Linked DNA regions of Homo sapiens: all the other regions are reported to be linked to region 3. The links are microRNA targets in miRTarBase. Many come from high-throughput screens and were not tested one by one. Region 3 holds a microRNA gene; each other region holds the end of a gene's coding sequence. Distances are between the middles of the regions.
The links. The annotated mature microRNA hsa-miR-30c-1-3p reads CUGGGAGAGGGUUGUUUACUCC and lies in region 3 at 2,048-2,069, opposite strand. An mRNA with a match to its seed (bases 2 to 7 or 8) in the 3' UTR can be bound and repressed. Matches are read on the target gene's strand: a 7mer-m8 pairs with bases 2 to 8, a 7mer-A1 pairs with bases 2 to 7 and ends in A, and an 8mer does both.

Region 1: miRTarBase lists MTSS2 as a target of hsa-miR-30c-1-3p. Seed matches in the 3' UTR shown: 7mer-m8 at 835-841 and 7mer-m8 at 930-936.
Region 2: the mRNA of MOB1B is a reported target of hsa-miR-30c-1-3p. The part of its 3' UTR that is shown has no 7-base or 8-base seed match.
Region 4: miRTarBase lists KLK10 as a target of hsa-miR-30c-1-3p. Seed matches in the 3' UTR shown: 7mer-m8 at 1,423-1,429.
Region 5: miRTarBase lists NAV1 as a target of hsa-miR-30c-1-3p. Seed matches in the 3' UTR shown: 7mer-m8 at 1,485-1,491 and 7mer-m8 at 3,682-3,688.
Region 6: the mRNA of SEC61A1 is a reported target of hsa-miR-30c-1-3p. Seed matches in the 3' UTR shown: 7mer-m8 at 2,149-2,155.

Annotation. Positions count from the first base shown.
Region 1 is chr16:70,660,064-70,664,150 of GRCh38, reverse strand. It overlaps MTSS2 (MTSS I-BAR domain containing 2), which reads left to right. Exons shown (of 15, transcript NM_138383.3): 15 at 1-2,947. The coding sequence ends at 474. IL34 (interleukin 34) reads right to left here. Exons shown (of 6, transcript NM_001393494.1): 6 at 3,469-4,087. The coding sequence ends at 3,964. Among named protein-coding and RNA genes, the nearest start is that of IL34, 16 kb to the right of the region's middle.
Region 2 is chr4:70,981,538-70,985,624 of GRCh38, reverse strand. It overlaps MOB1B (MOB kinase activator 1B), which reads right to left. Exons shown (of 6, transcript NM_173468.4): 6 at 1-3,645. The coding sequence ends at 3,568. Among named protein-coding and RNA genes, the nearest start is that of DCK, 10 kb to the left of the region's middle.
Region 3 is chr1:40,755,321-40,759,407 of GRCh38, reverse strand. It overlaps MIR30C1 (microRNA 30c-1), which reads right to left and starts at 2,124; the gene lies at 2,036-2,124. NFYC (nuclear transcription factor Y subunit gamma) reads right to left here. Exons shown (of 10, transcript NM_014223.5): 6 at 1,114-1,287.
Region 4 is chr19:51,011,445-51,015,531 of GRCh38, reverse strand. It overlaps KLK10 (kallikrein related peptidase 10), which reads left to right. Exons shown (of 6, transcript NM_145888.3): 5 at 1-115; 6 at 580-2,793. The coding sequence ends at 732. Among named protein-coding and RNA genes, the nearest start is that of KLK9, 3.9 kb to the right of the region's middle.
Region 5 is chr1:201,819,300-201,823,386 of GRCh38, forward strand. It overlaps NAV1 (neuron navigator 1), which reads left to right. Exons shown (of 34, transcript NM_001389617.1): 34 at 538-4,087. The coding sequence ends at 633. The region is part of intron 1 of IPO9-AS1 (IPO9 antisense RNA 1); the gene reads right to left. Among named protein-coding and RNA genes, the nearest start is that of IPO9, 7.8 kb to the right of the region's middle.
Region 6 is chr3:128,069,424-128,073,498 of GRCh38, reverse strand. It overlaps SEC61A1 (SEC61 translocon subunit alpha 1), which reads right to left. Exons shown (of 12, transcript NM_013336.4): 12 at 1,816-4,023. The coding sequence ends at 3,837. It also overlaps a transcript of RUVBL1 not described here. Among named protein-coding and RNA genes, the nearest start is that of RUVBL1-AS1, 4.3 kb to the left of the region's middle.

The DNA.
Region 1 (4,087 bases), not on the chromosome of region 3:
GTCCCTGTGAAGACGCCCACGGTGCCTGACTCCCCCGGCTACATGGGGCCCACACGGGCGGGCAGTGAGGAGTGCGTCTTCTATACCGACGAGACCGCCTCACCCCTGGCACCGGACCTCGCCAAGGCCTCCCCAAAGAGGCTCAGCCTGCCCAACACAGCCTGGGGCAGCCCATCCCCAGAGGCAGCCGGGTACCCCGGGGCAGGGGCCGAGGACGAGCAGCAGCAGCTGGCGGCCAACCGGCACAGCCTGGTGGAGAAGCTGGGGGAGCTGGTGGCGGGTGCCCACGCACTGGGTGAGGGCCAGTTCCCCTTCCCCACTGCTCTGTCGGCCACCCCCACGGAGGAGACGCCCACCCCACCCCCAGCCGCCACCAGCGACCCCCCGGCCGAAGACATGCTGGTGGCCATCCGGCGTGGGGTCCGGCTCCGCAGGACCGTCACCAACGACAGGTCGGCGCCCCGCATCTTATGATGGCGCCACCCTCCCCATCCTCTCAGGCCCCAGTGCGAGCAGGTGGCCTGGTCTGTGAGCCGCAGGCACTCAGAGCAAAGGCCCAGCCAGGAGAGAGGACAGAGCCAGGGCAGAGGCCATGCCACTTTATGGAAAGACACCTCACTTGGATTCCAGCATTTAAACAGGAAGTGACTTCTTAGCAAGCCTGGCCAGGACGGAGCCTGCAGGCCTGGGCCTGGTTCGGGGTCTGTTTTATGCTCTTCGGTCCCTCCTCTTCCTCCTCTGGGGCCCTGCCTCTTCCCTACCCATAAGCACCAGAGCCAGGGCCGCTGCCCATGACAGAGGGGCCAGGCTGGCCTCCCTTTCACCATCCCGGCCTCTCCCAGGGCTGGTCCTGCCTCAGCTCCTCCTGGAATGCTGGCCCCCCTCTCCCCTGCCTGAGCCCCCTCCTCCCCTCTTGCCTTCTCTCTGCCTCTCCCAGGCCCCTCTCCCTCCAGGAGGCGGGGCGGCTGTGGAGGGGCCAGGTGCACGCTGGGCTGGATGTCTGCTGGGGGCTGGGGGCCAGGGCGGCAGGTTGGAGTTGGGCGGCCAGGCCCCCCGTGTGGGAAGGGAGTTCCAGGGCCCACGCCAAGTCTCAGGGAGGAAACCAGGGGCTGCTTGGGGGGGGGGGTCTTGGGGGCCCTGTGGTGGCTCCCACCCCTCGCCTCCCCCACCCCGTGAGGCTGGCTGGAGGGGGCCAGAGCAGCTCTTTGGAAACTAGGGCAGCAGGGTTAGGAGGCCGGAGGCCCTGGGGTCACCGGCCAGCCACACAGGCACCGTTTTCAGATGTCCACTTCTCATTGGGTACATCAATCTTTTAACTTTGGGGGTCACAGTTTTAGCCACCTTTCGGGGGGTGACTGGAGCAGTAGGAGGTGTGGGGTCATTTTATGAATATAATAAAATGGAGCTGACTGTGGACGAGGACTAAGTGTGGGGGAGAGGGGACGATACAGGGTGTGTGTCTGGGAGTGCCTGGGGGACAGGGACCCCCCGGTGGTCCTATGGCAGGATGAGAAGGGAGGGACTTGGCTCCCCCAGAGCCCGGTGGAAGCTACTGTTCTCTCCAGTGTCTCGAGCGTAGCCAAAATAAGGTTGGGAGGCTCCCGGCCTGTCTGCTGTGGTCTGAGCTGGCTGCAAGCCCAGGTGGGGGAGCGAGTCTGGGAAGATTGGCTTTGACTCTCTGTTGCCGGAGGAGATGCCATCCCAGCACGGCCCCCACTGTAGTCCAGGCTCGTGGTGGCAGCGGGGGCAAGGGGAGGGGCAAGGCTGCCCCCACCCCACGCACCAAGTCACGCCAAGTCTCAGCAGGTAAAAGCACGTGAGCCTAGGGCGAGCGGAGGGAGTCCTGGTGGCCCCGCAGGTCAGGAGGGAAAGCAGGGCTCAGAGGGCATCGTGGCCCCAGGGCAGGGTCCTACCTGGGGGTCAGGAGCACCTTGGTCTTGATGATTGATTGATTGATTGATAGAATGGAGCTGGGTCTGAGCCTCCCAGGCTTGAGCTCCTGGGAGTTCTTGTGCGGTGAGCTGGGCAGCTCCTGGGTAGGTCCGGGCACCAAGCAGGCCCTGATGTGGACAGAGTCCCATCAGAGGGAGCTGATGAAGAATGGTCCCTGTAAGTAAGTCACTAGGTTCAACAACTGCCTGGCCGAGCACTCAGCCCGTGGAGCTCAGGCCAACACCAGAGCCCCGGTTTTAGGGGCCAGGAGAGCAGGTGACCAATTATTTGGGGAGTCTTGGGTAGAATTTCCGCCACACATTCTCCCCAGGGCTGCAGGGGTCTTCCGAGGCAGGGCGGTGGAGCAGGATTCAGGATGTGGTGGGAATAGAGTGAGGGGCAGTGGGTGGGCAGACCTGGGCGTCAGAGGTCCTGATGGGAAAGGAGGCAGGGGCTACCCAGAGAGGGGGGCTCGTGTGGCACAGCCCCCACCGACTCCGCCGTCCCCCTCCCCTGTGAGCCCCGGGGGCTGTACATACTCTACTCCATCCCCTTGTCCATCCCTGAGACCACCCCCGCCGCCCTTGCGTCGACTTAGCAACCACCTCATAGGCCCACCCACCTCGGGATCCGAGCCAACCATCCCACATCACAAACTTTGGTTTGGGGGACTTTACGTTCGTTTAATTTCTCATTTTGTACGGAGAAATATTCTTTTCAAAAGCGTCTTTTGACTGAAGTAACTTTCCTGGTGCTGTTGTTAACTCGTTCCTTTTTTTAATTTATTCCCCCACCCCAGGCAGCCCTCCTGGTTCCTACTCACCCTCCCCCCCTCCCCCACCCTCCGTCCCATCTGAACCATTTGTTTCTTTTCTTTCCGTCAGATTTTGGAAAAATTCTCCTCTCCTCCCCGCCCCCTCCACACCATCCTCCCCGATTTAAATATAGTCACTGCTACAAGTAACAGATGCACTGTGAAGATTCCAGTATTAATAAAGGTGTACTGTAATTAACACCCCTGCCTCTGCCTGGCTGCTTCCTACCCCATCCCCACACCTCACCTTTCCCACCCCAGATCCCAGCTGCAGGGGGACAGGCTGGGGGTTCCCAGAGGATCTCAGATCTCAATGTAGGTGCCAGGGCCAGACCTGGGTCTCTGAAATGTCCCATATGTGTCCCTGCTAGGGGCTGCCTGGGGGCAGCCAGATGGAGGGAGGGAGGGAGAGAGGGAGGGAGGGAGAGAGGGAGGGAGGGAGGGAGGATGGCAAGGGTCAAAGCCAAGGTATCAGCCCAACACCGCCTCCCCCAACCCAGGCTTGCAGAGGCCCCTGGGCTGGGCTGGGCTGGGCTGGGCTGGGCTGGGCTGGGCTGGGCTGGGCCGGAACTCCATCCCTGGCATCCCTCTCATTCCACATCCCTTGGGCAGGCTCCATCCACTCCAAATCCGCATCCTCAGCCCTGCCCCCCTCCACTTCCTGCACTTGGCCACCTCCCATCCCCGCCAGGTTCACCCCTGAAGATGCAAAGCAAAGCAAACCAAAGGAAGTGGGGTGTTTAATAGAAAAAAGAAACTGGAAGAGCATCCACTATGGCAAGATGTGGCACTTGGCACCGCCCTCTGCCCCCAGCTCCCCAGTCTGCCAGGCTGGGGGGTCATAGAATGGCCACGCCGTGCTGGCTGTCTCCCCTGCAACCCACAGCTGTGCCCTCACTGCTGCGGGCCACAGGAGGCTCAGTACCCCCTTTAGGCGGGGGGACAGTGAGGGCAGCACCAGGAGAAGCCAGGAGCTGTGTCCCCATCCACCTTCAGGTCCCCAGGTCCCCTCCGCTCCAGGTGAGGCCATGACAGCTATGGAAGGCAGGAAGCTGAGCCCTGCTGTGGCACAGAATCCCCCTCAAAGGAAAAACACCCTTCCCAGGGGTCCTCTCCCAAGGGGGGCTCCCACCACCACCCCTTGAAGTCTCAGACCCAGTTGAACTCCTGTGGGAGCTGGTCTGGCTGCCCCTATCCGCAGTCACCATCCAGGGTGCTCAGGGCAAGAGGCCCTCGCCCTGTGCCCTGACCGGCCTCACCGAGCCCGTGGAGTGAGGCGGGGAGCTGGGGGACCACGGGGGCGGAGGGTACAGCTGGGTGGCCGCATACTGCAATGAGGGC
Region 2 (4,087 bases), not on the chromosome of region 3:
TTGAACCCAGGAGGTGGAGGTTGCAGTGAGCTGAGATCATGCCATTGTACTCCAGCCCGGGCAACAGAGCAAGACTCCATCTTAAAGAAATAAAAATAAAAAAAATAAAAAAAATTTAAAAAGGTCATATTAAGCTGCCAAAAGTGTTTAGTGTAACTAAAATGATGAAACTGATTTTCCTGCATAATAACAAACTGCTTTTCATGGTATGCTCTAGAACAGTTCCAAAAACATTATACTTTTGCAGTATAGCTGGAATAAACAGTGCTCCCAAAAGAACCACTCTGAAGATGAACTCTTATTTGGATGTTAAGGCATGACTTATTCACCTTAAAAAGAAAGTTCTACAACTCAATATTTGTATCTCACATATTCTACCATTTCAGTGGTTATCAAAACCTGTCTCAGAGAGGGGTAAACAAAAGTATAAATGAAATGTTGTTTTGCTATTTTCCCATAAGCAAGGAAAATGCTAATATATAAAATGGAGTCTGGTGGTTATATATGTAATATATAAATATCCACATCATCTCTATTTCCTGATAAGAGACTGTAGTGTTTTATCCATCCTGATAAGACAGGCAGTAACTCAGTCTGAGATATATTATACATAAAACGTATCTTCTCCTACCTAATACATTTTATGGTGACCATTTAGAATTTACAAATGACTAACAGAGGGAAGGTAGAAAGAGACTGCAATTAAAAGTCTTCCAATTTAAGGTAAATTAACCTCCAAAACCTCTACCAGCAACTAACATGCTTGTTAATTTAGTGCAGTCTAATGCCATGGTTTTTAAGAGAAAGGGAATAATCAAGTCAGCAAATGAAAGCCAGTAGCACCATCTACTGCTAATTAAAATATTTTCACTCTTTTTGTTATTAATTTCTCTCTACCACCACTACTCCATCAATTAAAGTAATTCCAAAACATTGCTTCGTATCAACATTTAACCAAAAAAAGCATTGTGTGTGACAATAATACTATGTTAACTTACTACTTTATATTTTATGGGATGCTTTTATCAAAGGATAAGAAAACCAACTGTTGCTTTATAGCTACGTATTAATATAGAGAGCAAGGGGGAAAATAATTATCTTGGTTACTTACAAATTAATTAAAGAAATCCAAAAAGAATCCAACAGACATTTATCAGCAAACTCTGCTGCAGAACAAAGCACTGATCCTTATATTTAAAAGGGCATCTTACTAACTTTCATGGGAACCAACCAAATCAACCTTTTATTACATCAGTTCTTTCACTTTCTGATTTTTTCCTTACTTGTAGCCATGTAACACCATGTGCAATGCCAGGCCTCTCCCCTAGAGAACTGCTATGCTTTGTTACCATATATACACATATATACATCTCCTTACTTCCCAGTGACTGTGATTAAAGAAATACTCTAAGCAGGCACCTGAGATTCTGGCACAGTGAAAACAAACTATCTACATATAGTGGGAAAGTAGGTCTTACTACTAAAAACAAGTACAGTGTACTACTGTATAAGGCTTGAAAGGGCAAGATTAATTTTTCACTATTCTCTCTATACTTGGCTATTGCAACTCCTTTTTTACTAGATTGATATGAAGTCAAATACAATATGGAAGACTGAGTAATTCTGTGCTTCATTTTCCTATATGGACAAGATTCAAAATCACCTCACAAATTTTATTTCTGAATCAACCCATAATGATTCATATTATCTATCTGAATACAAAAAGATTTAAGGAAATTAACTAGCTCTGACTGCAGTTTATAAATAAGCTTTACCAATAAATGTCCAAGATATTTAACTCTGCCAGGCTTTCCTGTTACTTCTACTGTTGGTACTTGGTAAATAATTGCTAGAAATGAAGTGGAGAAAAAGGCAGTTTCTAGTCAACATAATTGTAATGGCATTAAATTGTATCACTGCTCTACTTTAATGGCAAAACAAATTCATTTAATTTTAGATTCTTTTCTACTGAGTGTTTTTAATCTATACTATTTCAGAGCAAGCATTTCTTCCTAGATGTGAAAAAGGTATATGTTTCAACTGAAGGAAGGATATATATTTCTAACTGAAGAAAGATTTATCGAAAATGACAAAACTAAAACTGGATTTCTAAAAAGGGTATTTTCTAGAATAAAACTGAAGTGGAAAAATTAATATTTATTCTAAAAACTAAGTTTCTGAAATTGTTATTTATGGTAATAATTCACTAGAAAGTCATGGCGAATAAAATTTAGAAGTTAATAACTACTGAATTAGCATTTTTCATTATCTAATACTGCTGCAAAGAAAAACATTTCCTTTCAGGGTGGAAAAACCAGAAGTCAGAATGCTTCAAACTGGACCTATAATAACCAAAGAAGGTATGGTATCATCTTAAAATGACAGGCAAACATCAGCTCCATTCACTGAATGGAAATGCTAAGAAGTGATCAATTTCCCCCAACAGTCCTTAAATTCCATGTTTAATGTCTGTACCTAAAATTAATAATTTATTTTTAACTTCTCATGGAAGTTGATTCCTAAAAGGAAGTCTCTAAGACTTTGTTTATAAGTAATTGATTAAAATCTTCATGCCATTCTATTCAAAGGTTTTCAGACAAAACTTTCTAGAACTTGACTCCCCATCCCTAACTCCTCATACATACGAACATCTCCATGCCCCCAGCCAAATATACATTCCTATCCCCTTCTCTTCAAAGTAGAAGGGAATTCTGCAGACTTACGGCTCATTTGGCAATTACTAGGAAACCTCACAGTTCAGCATCACCTCTGAAGATGGCAATCCTATATATAACCTGAATTTTTACATCTACAGTGCAGTTAACATGTAGAAAGAAGCCAAAATGTAATACATTTCAACATCCTCAAGTTTCAGTATCACAGATATCAAGAGGTGGGAAAAGACCTGCTTGTAGAGCTTTAAGCATTGTTGAACGTAATATATTACCATCAATATAAAAAATAATTAAGAAATATTTTTTATGTTCTACATGCATACCTTTACAAATTCTGTTTCTTCAAAGCAGTAAAGGCTGGAAATCACCATTTTAGGTAAACTATGGCTTTTATCATAGATATGTTACAACATGCACCAGTAAGTGCCCTGGGTAGTAATCCTAATATTGTTTCAAGCCCTGTTCAGTTCTATATCTATGTTTTGCACCTCAGAAGTGAGCCTGCCAAGGCACTTAAAAACATAACTCTTTTGGGGACTTCATAAATGGGCCACAATTTATACCACACAGAAACCAATCCATCGGCAGTTCAATCAACAAGCACTTTCTTGCAGCACACAATATTATTAAAAAACTCCTCAAGTAACCAAAACCAAGTTTAAAAACACTAAGATAAATTTACCCTTATCAAGTGTATAGAGAATGGTTCTTGGCTTCCCCTAGCAATAGAATATGGTTTCACATAATCAGAATAAAGAAAAAGGAACCCAAACAAGCCCCCGCCCCCAAACCTAGGACAAAAACAATCCAGATAAAAACAAAATATAACAAAATCCCCAATACACTCCACACTGCTTCATTTGAGGAACAATTTGCACAGCTCTGCATCCTTTTATCTGTCTTTTGAGGTGAGTTTTTCAATCAGTTCTTGGAGTGGTGCAAGTTCTCTTCTATCAATAAGGTTGAATTCCTATGCATGATATAAAGAAAGGCAGAATAAATAGCAAAAACATTATTTGCATCTTATTCCAAAGTAAATTACCATGAACATTTGTTGGAAATTAGCTTTTGAAGTACATAAAAGTAGATTATTTTTTTCTTGTTCACTAGGTCTGTGTCTTGGGTAAATCACTTAAGCACTCCTGATGTTATGCTTTTACATCTGTGACATTAGGATAAATCCCCCTATCTCATAAAATTATTGTGGGGACTAAATGTGATACTGGATGTTAACTACTTCATGTAATGCCTGACACAAAGTAACAATAAATGGAAGTTGCTGCTTCCTGTTGAAAGGAATGATCTGGACACCATTTAAATACAGTTAACCAAGTAGACATAGACACACACACAAAACACTAGCATCTCAGGCAAATTCAGCATTATATGAAAAGCCAAAACCTGGTTACAAA
Region 3 (4,087 bases):
CATGCCACCATGGCTGGCTAATGTTCTGATGTTCTGGTGGAGACAAGGTCTCACCATGTTGCCCAGGCTGGTCTTGAACACGTGGGCTCAAGCAATCCTCCTGCCTCGGCCTCCCAAAGTGCTGGAATTACAGACATGAGCCACCACATGCCCCTGCCTTTTTTTTTTTTTTTTAATTAAAGAAGAGGTCTTGCTGTGCTGCCCAGGCTGAAGTGCAGTGGCATGATCCTACCTCACTGTAACCTCAAACTCCTGGGTTCCTCCCACATTGGCCTCCCAAAGTGTTGGGATTACAGGCATGAGCCACTGCGCTGAGCCAAGGTACTTCTTTTAATGTGTTCCTTTAACACCCTGTACACATTCCCACGTGGTGGTACAACCTTTAAGTATTTGTATCCCCAACTAAATTGTGAATTCCTTGAAAATAAGGACTGTTTTATTCATGCTTGTATCCCCAATACATAGCACAGAACTTTACCCTCAGAGGATGCTCAGTGTTTGATGAATAAATAATGATTGACAGAGAATTTGGATTCAGAGCTCATAGTACAGAGTTCTCTGCAGCCTCACATGACCCCCAACAAACATGAATGCTACTGCTCTTAACACTACTACTGGGGAGAGAAAGAGTCCTCTGATTACTATCGTAAAAAGAGAAGGTCACTTAACACAAATATGGGACAGAGAAATGACGGGGAGAAGGAGTATGCAACTTGGCAATGATACCTAATCTCTCCCTTTAAGGGCACAAATTCCACTTCTCACACAGACACACAGACAGCAGGCATGGAGTTCACTTTAGCACCTCTACTCTTCATAAGGCATTTCAGACATTTTTTTTTCCCTTCTAAAATTTCTGAGCTAATAGGGATCCTGGAGAACATACTGTCTAGTACACTTTCCTCATTTGACCTTTGAGAAAAACAGGGTCCAGAGAGATTAGGGTAACATCTCACCCCAGTAGCTGAATCTGGGGAAAAGTTCCAGTTTCCAGACTTTAAATCCAGTGCTCTATAATGATCTGGCTGCCTCTCTGCCCTCATCAAGCTCTGCCCATCCAAAAACCTAAGGGGCACTGTCTTGCTGGATGGGCATCCTCAGCAGCTCACAGACCTGGCCCTGCTGAGGCTGTGCGATGATGATCTGCCCAGGCTGGATGGTGGTCGTGGAGCTGGTGGTCTGCTGGCCTTGCTGCTGGCCCTGGACTTGGACAGCGGTGGGTTGCTGAGCCAGCGTGAAATAGTACTGGACTGGCTCGGCAGGAGTTACAGACTGGCGCACCTCCTCCTGTTGGGTGGAAAGAGAGGCAGGTAAGAGGAAAAGAACCAACTCAGCAGCCGCCACAGTGAATTTCCACTCTTCCCCCAAACAGGCTATGTGCAGTTGCCTGCTGAATGCTGAGCTCTCCACATTTGAAGCCAAAGGAAAGTGGAATTCAAAGAGACCAGTTATGCTAAATCAAACTAAAAATAACAGATCCTATAGGCTTCACAAAACATACAGCCAATTTCTGAAGTACGAAATAATCACCCATTGCATGATAAGTTGCAAACGGGCAAATAAGTACCGTAACTAAAAACCACACACCAGCAGTGCTTGTCAGTAAATGCTGTCAAGGCCTGTGATCTGAGAACAGTGCTAATTGCAAGTGTTGGGAAGATGCTACCCAAACATCATGCCTCTCAGGCCTGGTCCCAATCTCCCAAATAGGCAGCACTCTTCTCGTTTTAGCCCCACCACTTCAAGGGGGACAGAACAGGTTAATGGGAAACAGGGCTTTTCCTGAGCTGAAATTTCAGGATCGAGAGCACTGGTAGGCAAGTACCCAGCTTTTCACAGCTTGTTGAAAGCTCTGTGGTCACTGAGGGCATGTCTATCCAGTGTCACATCTGGTTCTGGTTGTACTTAGCCACAGAAGCGCAACCCAGGGGGCCTGATGGACAGCTCTCCGCTGGGGTACTGCCTTGGCTGATTAGGGAGGTCGCATTCTGTCCGATCTGCGGAGTGGAGACTGTTCCTTCTTCAGCTGATGTTTTCCATGGCAGAAGGAGTAAACAACCCTCTCCCAGCCACCTTGAGCTCACAGCTGAGAGTGTAGGATGTTTACACACACTACAGCATGGTTATAGCCCACAGGGTCCAGGGTTGATCAGCCCCTGACCACTGACACAGAACGGCGTCTGATCCGGAGTGACCTGTGTGACACATGGTGCCCCTGCCTGGGACAACAAAAACAATAAAAACACAGAACCACTTGGGCTGGCTGAGTAAAAATATTAGCTAAATTTACTCATGTCCTTATTCAGGGCAAAGTTTGCCACGTTCCAGAAAAGAGGAAAAGACACTTCTTAGATGTACACAGACCCTGTGGATTGCCTCCAACTCCCCAAAGTAACATTTACAAAGCTGGTATTGACCCCATCCCCACACTATGTTAGGTGCCCTCAACTGTGCTTCCAAAGTACTGTCCTCACAGTATACATTTTTGCACTTGCATGTCAAATTAACTGTCTGTTCTACTAAAATGTTAAGCACCATGAGGGCAAAGCCTAGCTCTCTCTTGCTCTCTGCTATCCCCCGCGTTCCCAGGTAGGCACTCAGTAAGTGCGTGATGAATGATGAATGGATTTAGACAGGCAGACAGTTAGAGGCAGGAAAGTAGTTCTCTGAATCCAACTTGCTGATATGACAAATTCTCTTAAACCCAACAGCTGTTACCAATAGAAAAAAGTAGTCTCTAAACTCTCTTTTGGTACCTCTAAGACTCTGTGGCCACAGTGTGAGGAAGCAGCTAGTGTCCCCTGTGGAACAGAGCTGAGTATCCTTTGTTTGCCTGATGTCTGGGGGCTAGGATACTAAAACTAGGACTGCCAGTATCTACCCCTGAGAAACATGGGTCTCTGCATGACATGGTTACTTGACAGCCATCTACCCAGCTTAGGGAGATACCTGTAACATTCTGGGTTTCTAAGTTAATATATGAACTGACTTTTTAGGTTGATATAGTCTGTGCTTCAGACACAAATAGTTTTAACCCTCAATATGATTATGCTAAGGCAGAAGGAAAAGGAGATTCCCTTTTATTTTCATCTAGGTCTCAATTTCCACAACAATTTCAACCCCAACTTATCATCATTATAAATAAATGTCAGCCTGGAAACTAGGTATTGGCTGTGGCAAAGCTAAAATACTGATACCTTTTGCAGCCAAGAAACAGAAGCCAACTGCTCTTTGCAAAGCTATTGAAGTAGGTTCAAGGTACTTGTGTTCCACTGAGATCTCCCTTATTATTTTACAAAAAGCACAAATCACTGAAATCCAGACCTAACTTGGAAAAGCTCTTGGGTAATGAGAGGGTATACAGGAATGAGAGCCTCAGAACCAGCTGTGTAGGAAGCTAGGCAGCAGGGAGACACCTGCATTTTCTAGCCGTGACCTGTGATTGTTTAGTCTCCAGTTATCCCCAACTACAGCTGATCTAGTATTGAATATGATCTTTTTGTCAGACAAAAAGCAAACCCTTTAAAAACCCCTTCCAGAACCCAAAATATCTCTTGCCAAAAGCTGTGAGAGCAGGACAAGAGCTCCTCCTATGCTGCTTACTACATCCTCTTAAACTGTTTATGAACTAGACAGTATCTAGGACACTGAGAATCAAGTGGAGGCACCTAGGTTTGTGTTGTTAGGACAAGGCACAACTGTTCTCAAATCACTGGAATGGAAGAAGGCATATCTAAGGCTCTTCTGCATTATGAAGACTCATTCTGCCAATGGAGGTCAAGCCAGCAAGGAAATGATTATGCTTGGTTTAAAGAAATGGGTGAAAAGATAATGACATTTCAATGGGCAGGAACTTTCAACTCAATAGCTTTAGTGGGGCAGAAGTCAGGCCTCAACTACCTCCTACCTTCAAATAATCTTTACTTGCTTCTCTGAAGAACAAGCGAAACTCTCAAGTATCTTTGAGAAGTCAGGGCCTTGGACTCACAATTCAGTATTTCTGACTAGTTCCTTTTCCCAGCAGTGGGAGGTTGCCCCAAGTGGCAGAACAATGCTTTAATGACTGGATCAATCCAGAATGGGGCAC
Region 4 (4,087 bases), not on the chromosome of region 3:
GACCTGCTCCAGCATCACTATCCTGAGCCCTAAAGAGTGTGAGGTCTTCTACCCTGGCGTGGTCACCAACAACATGATATGTGCTGGACTGGACCGGGGCCAGGACCCTTGCCAGGTAGGGTCTGAACAGGGAGAGTCTCTGACTCCTGGGAGGGAGGACAGGGAGGTTATGGGAAAAGAGCAGACCCTGTGCCCGATCCCCAACTCCATTCCCAAACCCATCCTTGACCCCAACTCTTACCCAGACCTAACCCCCTCCTCATCCCTATCCTCAATCCCATTTCCATCCCAACCCCACCCCATTCCCATCTCCAAGCCCATTTTCATCCCCTCACCTTCCATGAACTACAATCCCAACCCCAGTCTCACTGTGCCTTCATTCTCATCCCCCAGCCCAACCTCCCATAACCTGAAGTCCACCTCCATTCCTACCTTCCAGCTCATACCTAATTCCAACCCCATCCCATCCTCGTCTTTATCCCAACCCAACTCCTTCCTTCCCCACCACTGCCCCAGATCCCAAAGTGACAGCTCTCACGTTGGCACATTTATTTGATCTCTCCTTCCTGCCACCCCCAGAGTGACTCTGGAGGCCCCCTGGTCTGTGACGAGACCCTCCAAGGCATCCTCTCGTGGGGTGTTTACCCCTGTGGCTCTGCCCAGCATCCAGCTGTCTACACCCAGATCTGCAAATACATGTCCTGGATCAATAAAGTCATACGCTCCAACTGATCCAGATGCTACGCTCCAGCTGATCCAGATGTTATGCTCCTGCTGATCCAGATGCCCAGAGGCTCCATCGTCCATCCTCTTCCTCCCCAGTCGGCTGAACTCTCCCCTTGTCTGCACTGTTCAAACCTCTGCCGCCCTCCACACCTCTAAACATCTCCCCTCTCACCTCATTCCCCCACCTATCCCCATTCTCTGCCTGTACTGAAGCTGAAATGCAGGAAGTGGTGGCAAAGGTTTATTCCAGAGAAGCCAGGAAGCCGGTCATCACCCAGCCTCTGAGAGCAGTTACTGGGGTCACCCAACCTGACTTCCTCTGCCACTCCCTGCTGTGTGACTTTGGGCAAGCCAAGTGCCCTCTCTGAACCTCAGTTTCCTCATCTGCAAAATGGGAACAATGACGTGCCTACCTCTTAGACATGTTGTGAGGAGACTATGATATAACATGTGTATGTAAATCTTCATGGTGATTGTCATGTAAGGCTTAACACAGTGGGTGGTGAGTTCTGACTAAAGGTTACCTGTTGTCGTGATCTGACCACGTCCCGGTGAAAGCGTGTGTCCAGGGAAGAAGTGCACAGGGTAGCCCCCAGTCCCAACCTTCCATCCCCAACCCTTAGGGATGATGGAAGAATCATTTTCCTCACCCTAGTTCCAAGTCCCAGGAAACACCTTTTAACCACTTCCTTCTCATCTCCCACTGTTTCCCACTTCTGGTTCCACCCAACACCAGTTCCTCCGAGCTAGGCTGGCCCTGAGTCATTAGCACCTTCTCTGCCTTCATGAGGCCACTGAACTCAAGGGACCTCACCTTGCTTCTATCCCAGCCTCTAAGACCAGAGGGCCGAGGGGGTAGTGAAGATTGGGAAACCCTTGCCACCTCAACTGCCCAGCTTGTGCCAAGAAACCTCCCTCTGACATTTAGGGGAAAATCTTTGGTTTGTCTGTTATTAATTGGCTGTGAGATTTTCGTCCTGAAAACTTGGGAGGAGGAATTGTTTGATTCTCCCTGAAATTGGGGGAGGGAAGGGGAGTTAATACACAGAATCCAGGTAAGGCTAATAGAAGCTTCAGTGTCCGCTGGGTGTGGTGGCTCACGCCTGTAATCCTAGCACTTTGGGAGGCCGAGGAAAGCAGATCATCTGAGGTCAGGTGTTCGAGACCAGTCTGGCCAAAATGGTGAAATCCCATCTCTACTGAAAATACAAAAACTAGCCAGGCATGGTGGCAGGCACCTATAATCCCATCTACTTGGGAGGCTGAGGCAGAAGAATCACTTGAACCCGGGGGGCAGAGGTTGCAGTGAGCCAAGATTGCACCATTGCACTCCATCCAGCCTGGACAAAAGAGCAAAACTCCATCTCAAAAAAAGAAGAAGTTTGAGTGTCTCAGCTTATCCTGAACTTTGAAGCAGTAACATAAGCTAGCTGAATATAGGCACAACAGAAATTTCCCATTAAGCACGGGGTTTTTGTTTGTTTGTTTGTCCTTTCAGTTACCAATTTATGGAGCATCTATTATGTGCCAGGCCCAGTGCTGGGTGCTGGGGACATACGTAGGGGTGATCACAAGGTCCCCCACCCTGCAGAGCCCACAGGAGGTTGATGTACAAGGTCTGAGCACACAGCTCCCTTCCGTGGCCTCTTTCCCATTCTGCCCCCATTAGCACACGCAGGAAATGTCAGACAGGCGTATCAGCTGGGTTTGTCATCCAAAGACCAGAAGCGAGGTCGGTGGAAACTTGAAAACTCGATTCATTATTAAAGGCAACTCACCCGTCCCTTTAGTCACTCCACAATGTTTATCGAGCCACGTCTTATGCCAGGCCTCAAAGATGAATCAGACCAGGCACTACCCTCAAGGAGCTGCTAGTTAGGTCAGGGAGACAGGCCAGTCTTACATTCCTGTCATTCAGGTCTCCACTCAAAAGTCACCTCCTCCGGGAGGCCTTCCTGAATTGCCCAGGCTATAGGAGTCCACTTTTGGTCATCCAGTCCCGATGCTCTGTTTTTTGTTTGTTTGTTTTTTTTTTTAATAGCACCTATTATACCTGAAATTATCTCATTTGTGTTTACTTGATAATGGTCTATGTCACCCTTCCCCACAAATTCCGTGAGGGCAGTGATTCAGATATTTGTTCACTGTGATTTTCTAAGCTCCTGTATTGTGCCCGGCACACAGAAGTCACCCCCGTTGCTGTGTGAACACATAACACAAATAGATCAGTGCTGTAACAGAAGGGGGTATGGGGTGCACCACACCAAGTCCACAGGCTGTGCCTGAAGGAGTCAGGAAAGGCTTCTCAATGAGGGGACATTTGTGCAGGAGTTTAAAGGATAAGTAGGAGTTCACCAGGTAGAGAAGGAAATGCATTTCAATCACTTTGCTGTATGACTTTGAGCAAATTACTTGAATGCTGTCTCTTCCTCAGTTTTCACTCTGTGAAATGGAGACACCTGCTTAATTAGACTCCCGTGAGAGTTAAATGAGATAGGCTGGGCGCAGTGGCTCACTCCTATAATCCCAGAACTTTAGGAGGCTGAGATGGGTGGAATGCTTGAGCTCAGGAGTTTAAGATCAGCCTGAGCAACATAGTGAAACCTCGTCTCTACTAAAAAAAAAAAAAAAAAAAAAAAAAAAATTAGCCTTGCATGGTGGTGCACACCTTGTAGTCCTAGCTACTCAGGAGGCTGAGGCAGGAGGAATACTTGAGTCCAGGAGGTTGAGGCTGCAATGAACTATGATCATGCCGCTGCACTCCAGCCTTGGCAACAGAGACCCTGTGTCAAAAAACAAAAAACAACAACAACAAAAGGATAATTAAATGAGATAATATACATGCAAAGTTCACCTAACACCAGGCACTGAGAACACAGTCAATAAAGGTAGCTATTAAAATGCTCATTTTTTTTTTATTTTTCTTTTGAGAGTCTTGCTCTGTTGCCCAGGCTGGAGTGCAGTGGCACGATCTAGGCTCACTGCAACCTCTGCCTCCCGGGTTCAAGCAATTCTCCTGCCTCAGCCTCCCGAGTAGCTGGGATTACAGGCCGCCCGCCACCATGCCTGGCTAATTTTTGTGTTTTTAATAGAGTCAGAGTTTCACCATGTTGGCCAGGCTGGTCTTGAACTCCTGACCTCAAGTGATCCACCCACCTCGGTCCCCCAAAGTGCTGAGATTACAGGCGTGAGCCACCGCGCTTGGTCTAAAATGCTCTTAATAGCAGTTAAGGTGGCACTTAGCACATAGTGGATACCCAGTCCCTGATCTCAAGGACTTCCCTGTCTGGAAAGGGAGTGAGACAACTGCAGGCAAGGGTGAAATGAGCTATGATAAAGGCACCACAGGTTTCTGCAGGGG
Region 5 (4,087 bases), 160 Mb from region 3:
TGTCCCTTGTATAGCAGGCATACTCCCAAGTAATTGTTGTACATACACATGTGTCACAGTTATCATTGAAGAAATCCTCATTGCCTTTTCACAAACCACTCTAAACTCTGAGCTCTTCATCACTGAGAAACCAAGGATCAGACCCATGATCTAGATTTTTTTTTTTTTTTTTTTGGAGACAGAGTCTTGCTCTTTCATCCAGGCTGGAATGCAGTGATGATATCAAAGCTCACTGCTGCCTCAAACTCCTAGGCTCATAGGCTCGAGTCATCCTCCCACTTGGGCTTTGGCATCCTGAGTAGCTGGGACTGTAGTTGTGTGCCACCACGCCTGGCCAGTTTTTTATTGTTTTATTTTTATTTTTTGGTAGAGTCAGGGTCTCTCTTTGTTTTCAAAGCTGATTGCAAACTCCTGGCTTCAAGCTATCCTTCCACCTTGGCCTCCCAAAGTGTTGGGATTTTGTTGTTGTTGTTTCCCTTCTGTGGGCAGGACCCAGAGTCCCAACTCTCATAAATCCATCTTTTTGCCCCCCTTTAGATGGCCATGCTGCTGAAACTTCAAGAAGCTGCCAACTACATTGAGTCTCCAGATCGAGAAACCATCCTGGACCCCAACCTTCAGGCAACACTTTAAGGGTTCGGCAATCACTGTCACCCCCGGACAGCAGAACGCTGGCATCAGCTATCTTAGCTCCTCCTCTCCCCTCTCCTCTTTCAGAGCACTGGCTCTCCAGCCCCAGGAGGAGAACAGGAGGGAGGAGGAGATGAAAGAGGAGGGACAGGTTCTTGGTGCTGTACCTTTGAGAACTTCCTAGGAAGGAATGGTGGGGTGGCGTTTGGGAACTTGTGCCCCCTAAACACATTTACTGGCCTCCTCTAATGACTTTGGGGAAAAGATGATTCTGGGTCTTTCCCTTGACTTCTTGTTTCAATTACAAACTCCTGGGCTTTCTGGGGAGGGGTTCAGAAAACATCAAAACACTGCAGCAGTTCCTAAATGATTCTCACAAGCAACCCTGAGAGAGACAGTCTTGTGAGGGAGATCTGGGGGAGGCAGGAAGCTCCTCAGATTTTCTCACAGACCCTTCCCAATTCCATCACCACTGCCAACAACTCCTCCCCCAGAGATCTGGCTGGAGCCCAGAAAAAGAAGCATGTGGTTTAAAAAATGTTTAAATCAATCTGTAAAAGGTAAAAATGAAAAACAAAAACAAGCAAACAAACAAAAAACAATGGAAAAGATGAAGCTGGAGAGAGAGGAACCAGTTGCCAAGGTAGAGAGCTGCCCGCTCCTGCCCTCTGGATGACATAGGGGACATCAACAAGACGGCTGCCAACCTGAGAAGTCACCAAACCACAAAAATAACCTTACAGCCTTCAGGGAAAGACTACCAGCTCTGTCTTTCTACCCTCTAATTTAACAATGCATAAGAGTCAATAAACCCTACTTTTTTATTTTTGGTTTTTATTTTGTTTTCATTTTTTTCTCCCATTTGCCTATTTATTTTTTTGTTTCCCTTTTTTTTTTCTTTTTCCGTTTTTCCATTTCCTCACATGTCCACGAGATGCTTGGGTTGCTTTTCCAGGGGCTAGTTTGGCTTTTCCAAGTGGGTTTTCTTTGGAGAATCTGATGCCATGCAATTGGCATGACACCTGCCATGCCACTATCTTTGGCATCCATGGGGCTTATATGAGACATGAAGCATTGGCTCAGAAGTAGAGGGAGAAGAGGAACCCAGTTCCCTTGACTTCCCTTTTGAGAGCACACGTTCTGCTGGGTAGCTCAATTGCCAGCCTCTGTCATGAGAAGGTATAGCCCCATCTTGATAGAAGAGTTACTCCGAGCTTTATCATGGACCAGAGGAAAACCAGAAAACTGAAAACATTCCTCTGTCTTGTGGCCAGTTTGGCCTTTCACTGCACTATTCTGATGGTGCCTGACTGAATCCAAATATCCTAGCTGGCTCTTACTATTTTTCACAAATGAGTATTCACATATAAGAGATGAACATCCATGTGAGATCATCCCAATCAGAATATAAGACTCAAGGAGTTTGACTTGGTGGCCAATACCTGCCTTCCAAAGAGATCCTACCTTTGCAGATTTGCTCCTTTCCCATTGCCTTGAAGGTCTGGCAATCCCTGTTCTTTCATTTGACAAGTACTTACTGAGTACTCACTATATACAAATCATTAGGTTAAAACAGACACACACACACACACACACACACACACACACACACACACACACACAAGACCTGGGCCCTTAAGTTTACAGTCCAGCAGGAAATGTTAACCTCCATTCAGCTACGCCCCCTTGTTATCTAGACCTTCGGGATCATCTAAGAAATGTAGCTGAAACCCAAGGAGCCAGCTAGAAAGAAGCTTTTGATTAGATGTACAATACATTGGGGGCAGAAGATCTGGGATCAATTAAGATGGAGCCTGAAGGACTATGGAATCTTGCTTGTCAGGAATGGGCAAGTCTACTTCCTGCCATTTCTGAAAGCCCCGCGGGACCAGCTTCTAGGCTGAGCTGCCTAGTAGGCTGAAGCTTCAGGACTCTGCAGGTCAAGGATATGTGATGAGCACCGGCCTAAGTGTTTGCTCTTCAGATTCCTAAGTAGCACAAGACTTTATCAGAATCTATAGGCATACCAACCTGGATCACTCTTCCACCCAACCGAGGAGTAGATGCATCTGAATCTTCATATCGGTATATTAAGTCCAAAAGATGGTCCGGGCTGCCCCTCACAAAAGCTTCTGCATCCACGTGGTAAGCTCCCATGGATGACAGGGTTCTGTATGATGGAGACTATTATTGCTATTGCTGCTAATTCCATGAGCTGTGAAGATCCCTAACCAACTCAGCTGTAACATATGCAATTCTGTGGTGGGAAGAGGCTGTGTGTCCAAGGATGGTGCTGAAATCACTGCCTTAAGGTCTCTGCTGTGCAGAATGAGGAGGCCCCCGAGCTGGCTGTTCTAACTTAGAAGGAAGAGAAGACTGGATGGGCCTGCTTGGGATCTAGGCCTCTTCTAAACCCTATCCTAAGCTCCAGTTCCATGGCAAGGCTCAGACTTTTAATGCCATCTTAATCTGATGGTTGAGCGCTTCACTCTATTTTCTGGTGCTGCCCAGCCAGTGCCTTCTGCCATGGATGTTACTGGCTACTTGAGAAAAAGGAGAGGGGAGAACCCCTTCTTTCATTCCAACTGCCTCCGACCCCAAAGGGATTCTTGGCTCTCTGGTAACCATGGATACCACCATGAATTTTATTTGGATCCTCAGCAGGTTGATTCTGGAGGCCTCATGCTATGACTTTTTATTTCTCTTCCTGGGATCCACCACCCTCTACTCTCAGCTGACTGCTGCATTTAGGCCAGGTCTCCAATTGCTTTCCTCCAGAAAGTGTGTTCCCGTCTAGTGAGGTAGTATTGAAGCCTCGGCTTTCCCTCTGGAGCCTGGGACCCTGTTTACAGTTGCACATCTGGGCCCCTCACTGTGGGGATTGATCATTCTCATGAAGGAATCACAGTTATATGGCAACTGCAGAAGGCTGAGCCTCCTCATGGTGCTATAACCCCTTGGGACACTCATCCAGACTTCTCTGAAGCAGAAAACCTGAGCTCCCCACTCACTGCCCTAGAATTTATGGCAAGGAGCAAATCTACAGCATTCTCTCCCACCTACGTCCTGCTTCTTGGTTGAGACTACTGGGATCCTTCAGAAAAGAAACACTGGGTCCCATAGCTAAATTCTCAACCGCCAGGCACCTTCAGAAGAATCCAGCCTAATACTGGAATTTGTGCTATTATCTTCCTCTCCAGCCCCCCAACTCCATCCCTCACCACAGTTGTCTAGGAAATGACATGAATTCAATATCTAATGTCAACCAATGGGGAGAGCCACAACTCCAGGAGAGGTTCCTGAGCTGAGTCCCTTAATTTCTGGATGAAGAAGACCAACAAGTTTTGTCCAATGTATTTGTTTCTCAGACCTTGCCTAGGCACTAAAAATAAAATACTAGGTCATTGGAGGCTAATGTGGGACCTGATGTCTGCGTGTGTGTGTGTGTGTGTGTGTG
Region 6 (4,075 bases), not on the chromosome of region 3:
ACATGCCCATCCCCTGGCCCTCATCAGGAATCCGTTGCTCTTCCCCAGGCCATGGGGCTCAGACCCCTCAGAAATGAGATGGGAGGCTCATCCCAGCCTTCCTGAGGACTTCATGCTGGCCTGGCTTCAGCAGGAGCAGGCTGGGGGCGGGGTATGGGGTAGGGCATCAGCAGGTCCAGGGAGGCAGTGGTAAAGCAGCACCATGGATGGAGCGGAGTGCCAGTTGAAGCGGGTGCTGCCCCTGAGCCAAGGGCAGCAAGGGGAAGCTCCGGGGGTGGGGCCTGTTTCCCTAGACTCCTCATTCCTTGCCCCAGCTACGTCCCTAGCAGAAGTACCTGCAGGCAGGACCAGCAGCCAGACAGGGACTTGGAGTAGGAAGTGAGCCTTAGGCTTTTTGTCCTGGCTCGGGAGCTAAGTGACTTTTGGCCACACTCTATTTCCCTGGGCCTCAGTTTCTTCACCTGTAAAATGGACGGACTTGTTTCCTCCTGGGCCTCTAGTGGGGTGAAGTGAGAGCACATGTAGGAAGTGGCTGGGACAGTGCCTGCCCCAAGGGAAAAAGCAGAGTAAGCCTTACCCCCCCATCACTGTGCATTAGTTCCCTGTGCATGGGGAGGAGCCAGGTGGAGAGACACCAGGGCCTGCCATCTTGAAGCGTGCGTGGCTGCTGGAATGTGGGCTCCGTTTGCTCTCAGGCAAGAGGGGCCACGGCCACAGGTGCAAACGAATACCTGAGGCACGAGAGATGGCCTACTGCTTCCCTGGGGCAGCAGGTTTTCTAACATATTTATACTGGCAAGCACCCTGCCTGCCTCAGCAATTCACAGCGCCTGGCTGGTCTGGAGCCTGAGGCCACGTGCTGTGCTCCTGTCCAGGGCCTCCCTGAGCCCTGAGGCCAGCAGGTGCAGAGGGAGCGCGGGGCAGACCTGGCTGCACATGTGTCCTAGCAGTCTCAAAACACAGTGCTGAGGTGTGGCTTCTGCAAGGCCAGGCCCACACCTGTCCATCAGGTGGTCTCAGAGGAACCATCCTGCTCTGACCCAACTCCCCTTGGAAATCAGTTTCCAAGACAAGGTCTAAGACTACAAGGAAATACTGAGGCTGGAGCCCAGCTAAGGAGTAACGACCTCCCACAGCCCTGGTCAGGCCTGCCCTGGGGTTGCCCACCCACCTGCCCCTCAAGTTCCTGAGGAAGCACCAGGCCCAGGTGGTGGGGACGGCGGCAGGTTTGGGGTGAGGCCCTGTCCAGGACTGGGGAGAGTGGAAATGTGGCCTACCACTGGGGGCTTGGTGTAGAAACAGAAAGACTTCTAGACACGTTCTAAGGGAGCAGCCACAAGCCTGCCACTCCCACCCACACAACACTGGGTCCTTCTGGCTTGGCTACAGGTCGGGTCTGAGGCCAGCCTCACAACCAAGTTAAGACTTCTCCAATCACCAGCTGGGTACTGGAGCTGAGGCTCAAAGGGCTTCGAGTTATGGGGCCCTAGGCTCCTGCTAGAAGGTTCCCACTCTTCCACGGGGTGGCAGGCGCCCTGGCTCAGCGGAGGCCTCTGCATTCTCACGGGACAGCCAGTGCACTCTGCCTCACGGGCAGAGCCCTGCAGCAGCTCCACATGTGGCCCAGCACCCATATCACTTTATCACAAATGTGAGCACCAGGTTGACATGACCATCAGAAGGGAACTTTTCCAGGCAAAATGCCTGAGTGCCCCAACCAAGCCTTTGACACACACAAAGCTGCAACCAAGCTTTGCGCCTCACTGGCCTTTTTGGGAATAAAATCTAATTTAAAATCAAGAGAACATGATCAAGTACCTTGTAAAAAACTGGCTTTATTTGTCACTTATTCACCTTATCTCAGTTATGCCATTTTGGCGTCCACAGTGACAGTCCCCTGGAAGCTGGGGTCAGCCCCCACCCACCCACCGTGACCATCACCCACAGGGCGTGAGTGTGGGCCTTGCAGGGCCCAGCCGATGGTTACAGGCTGCAGGCGGGACTATGGGGCTCCTCCTGAGGCCTGGTGCCTTCCAGCCCCCTGCCCACCAGCTTGGGTACAGCTGCCTGCCTGCCAGAGGCCAAGCATTCCTAAGCGTGGGCTGGGGGAGGCCCTGCCCCTCTGTAGCAGCAGAGCAGACAGGGCAGTGGGAGAACCATGTGGGTAGGAGGGCATCAGGTCTCAAGAGCCTCTCCCCTGCTCAGGACTGGGTCTAGACAAGGCCACGTGTGATAGGGTGGTAAGCCCTGGGCCATATGGAGGAGCCTGGGGCCCATCTTGGTTCTGCTGCTGAGTTGCTGGGTGGCTTTAGGCAAGTCCCTTCTTGTCCCTTGGTCACTCTGTTTCCTGGCTAGCACTGCCAGCAAGGTCTCCAGAGTGTGCCCCTCTGCCGGGCTGTGGCGGTGGCCCTGTGCTTTGCAGGCTGCCGTGTGCCCACTGTCAGAGTGGGGTCTCCCCGACAGGCTGCACGCACCCCCAGGCCCCCTTCTTAGGATCAGGGCATCCTGCAAAACATCCTTGGTCCCACCAATGTCTAAAGCCAGCTCGAAACCTCGAGCTCCTCAGGATCTTAGCACCCAACTCTGCTGCCCTTGCTGCTGGGCAGTGCCTGTCCTAAGAGGGGACTCCCTAAAGGCCAGAGAGAGGGTGCTCATCTCCAGGACCTAGGCCACCTGTCAGCACAAACAGAACTTATTCCAGACATAAACATGAGTCTTCTTATTTCAAACACTGGAGCAACTGATCAACACCACCACAGCCCATGCACCCCGAACCTGACTTCACTACCAACCTTGAGCCTGTGCTGTCCTCTCTCTGCTGACGACACTGGTGACGCAGAAAGGAAGTCGGTGGTGTCTGCTCACTTGCGTGCAGTCCTAAGCACAGTAAGAAAATTCTGAACACAGCTGGGTGATCTTCAGCCCAGAAGGTGTAGGGGCTTGTGAGCACTAAGTCAGTTTCTGTCCATGTCTGATAGCTACCACAATGTCTCCCCTTGCTAGGGCAGCTGCGAGGAGACGTGTCCAGTGATGACTGGCAGAATCTGGACAAACGGACATCACTGCAAGGGTCTGTCCACCTAGCTTGGCCAGGCTCAGCTTGGCAGAGCTGATGACCCAAGTGGACTAAACACGGAGCTAGCAGAAACAGGCAGACTCTAAGCCCAACCAGAAGAGTCAGCTAGAAGAGCCAATAGGTGCACAGACAAATCCACAGATGGCCAGGAGTGTCTTCTGGGAAAGCCATCCCTCTCTTTTGGAAGAAGTTCTGTCCTTAAAAAAATCACTTTTAAAATAAGGGAAAACAATGGTGTCTTAGAGAGAAACAGTCCTAAGCCAGATATTCCCACGCCTGATTGTGAAGGAGACATGCCAGCAAGGTCCCACGTCTCCGGGAAATACATGATCTGCTCCCAGCTTCACACCCTACTGCCAAAATGAAACGTAGACATTTCAGTGTTTGTGCTTCCAACCAGAGTGAGAAATTCCCTTTGTGGGGAAACAGGTGAGACGGCTGCAGCCGCATACAGCACTGAGAAGGTGCAAAGGTTAAAACAAAAGTTACATGGACACTTGGGGACAATCCTATACCATTCCCACTTCTCTGGCAGTCGGCTGAATAAAATTTCACTTTCACAGTTCTTTTTGCCAGTGCCAGGATAAAAAGCAAAATTTTAAATTGGAAAATGTCTAGCACTTTACACAGTGGAATGAAAGAATACGAAATTCAAAAACATTATTAAAAGTCCATATGCCGCAGCAGCACGCGCCATGATGAGAGCTCCCCTTCCGAGGCGCTTCTGGAGCAGCTTCCTCAACCTGTCCGGGAGACGGGCTCAGAAGAGCAGGGCCCCCATGCTGCCAACCTCGCTTTGCTCCTTAACGAAGATCTCAAAGTACTGGTAGATGATTGTGACTGCGAGCAGGATCCCGGTTCCAGACCCAATGGCGCCTAGGAAGTCAGCCAGGACCGAGAGGGCCCCGATGCACAGCCCACCAAAGGCCGCGGCTGTGGGGATGTACCTGGGGGAGGGGACACAGTCAGCTCCTGGACACCCACAGAGCTCCCCGTGAG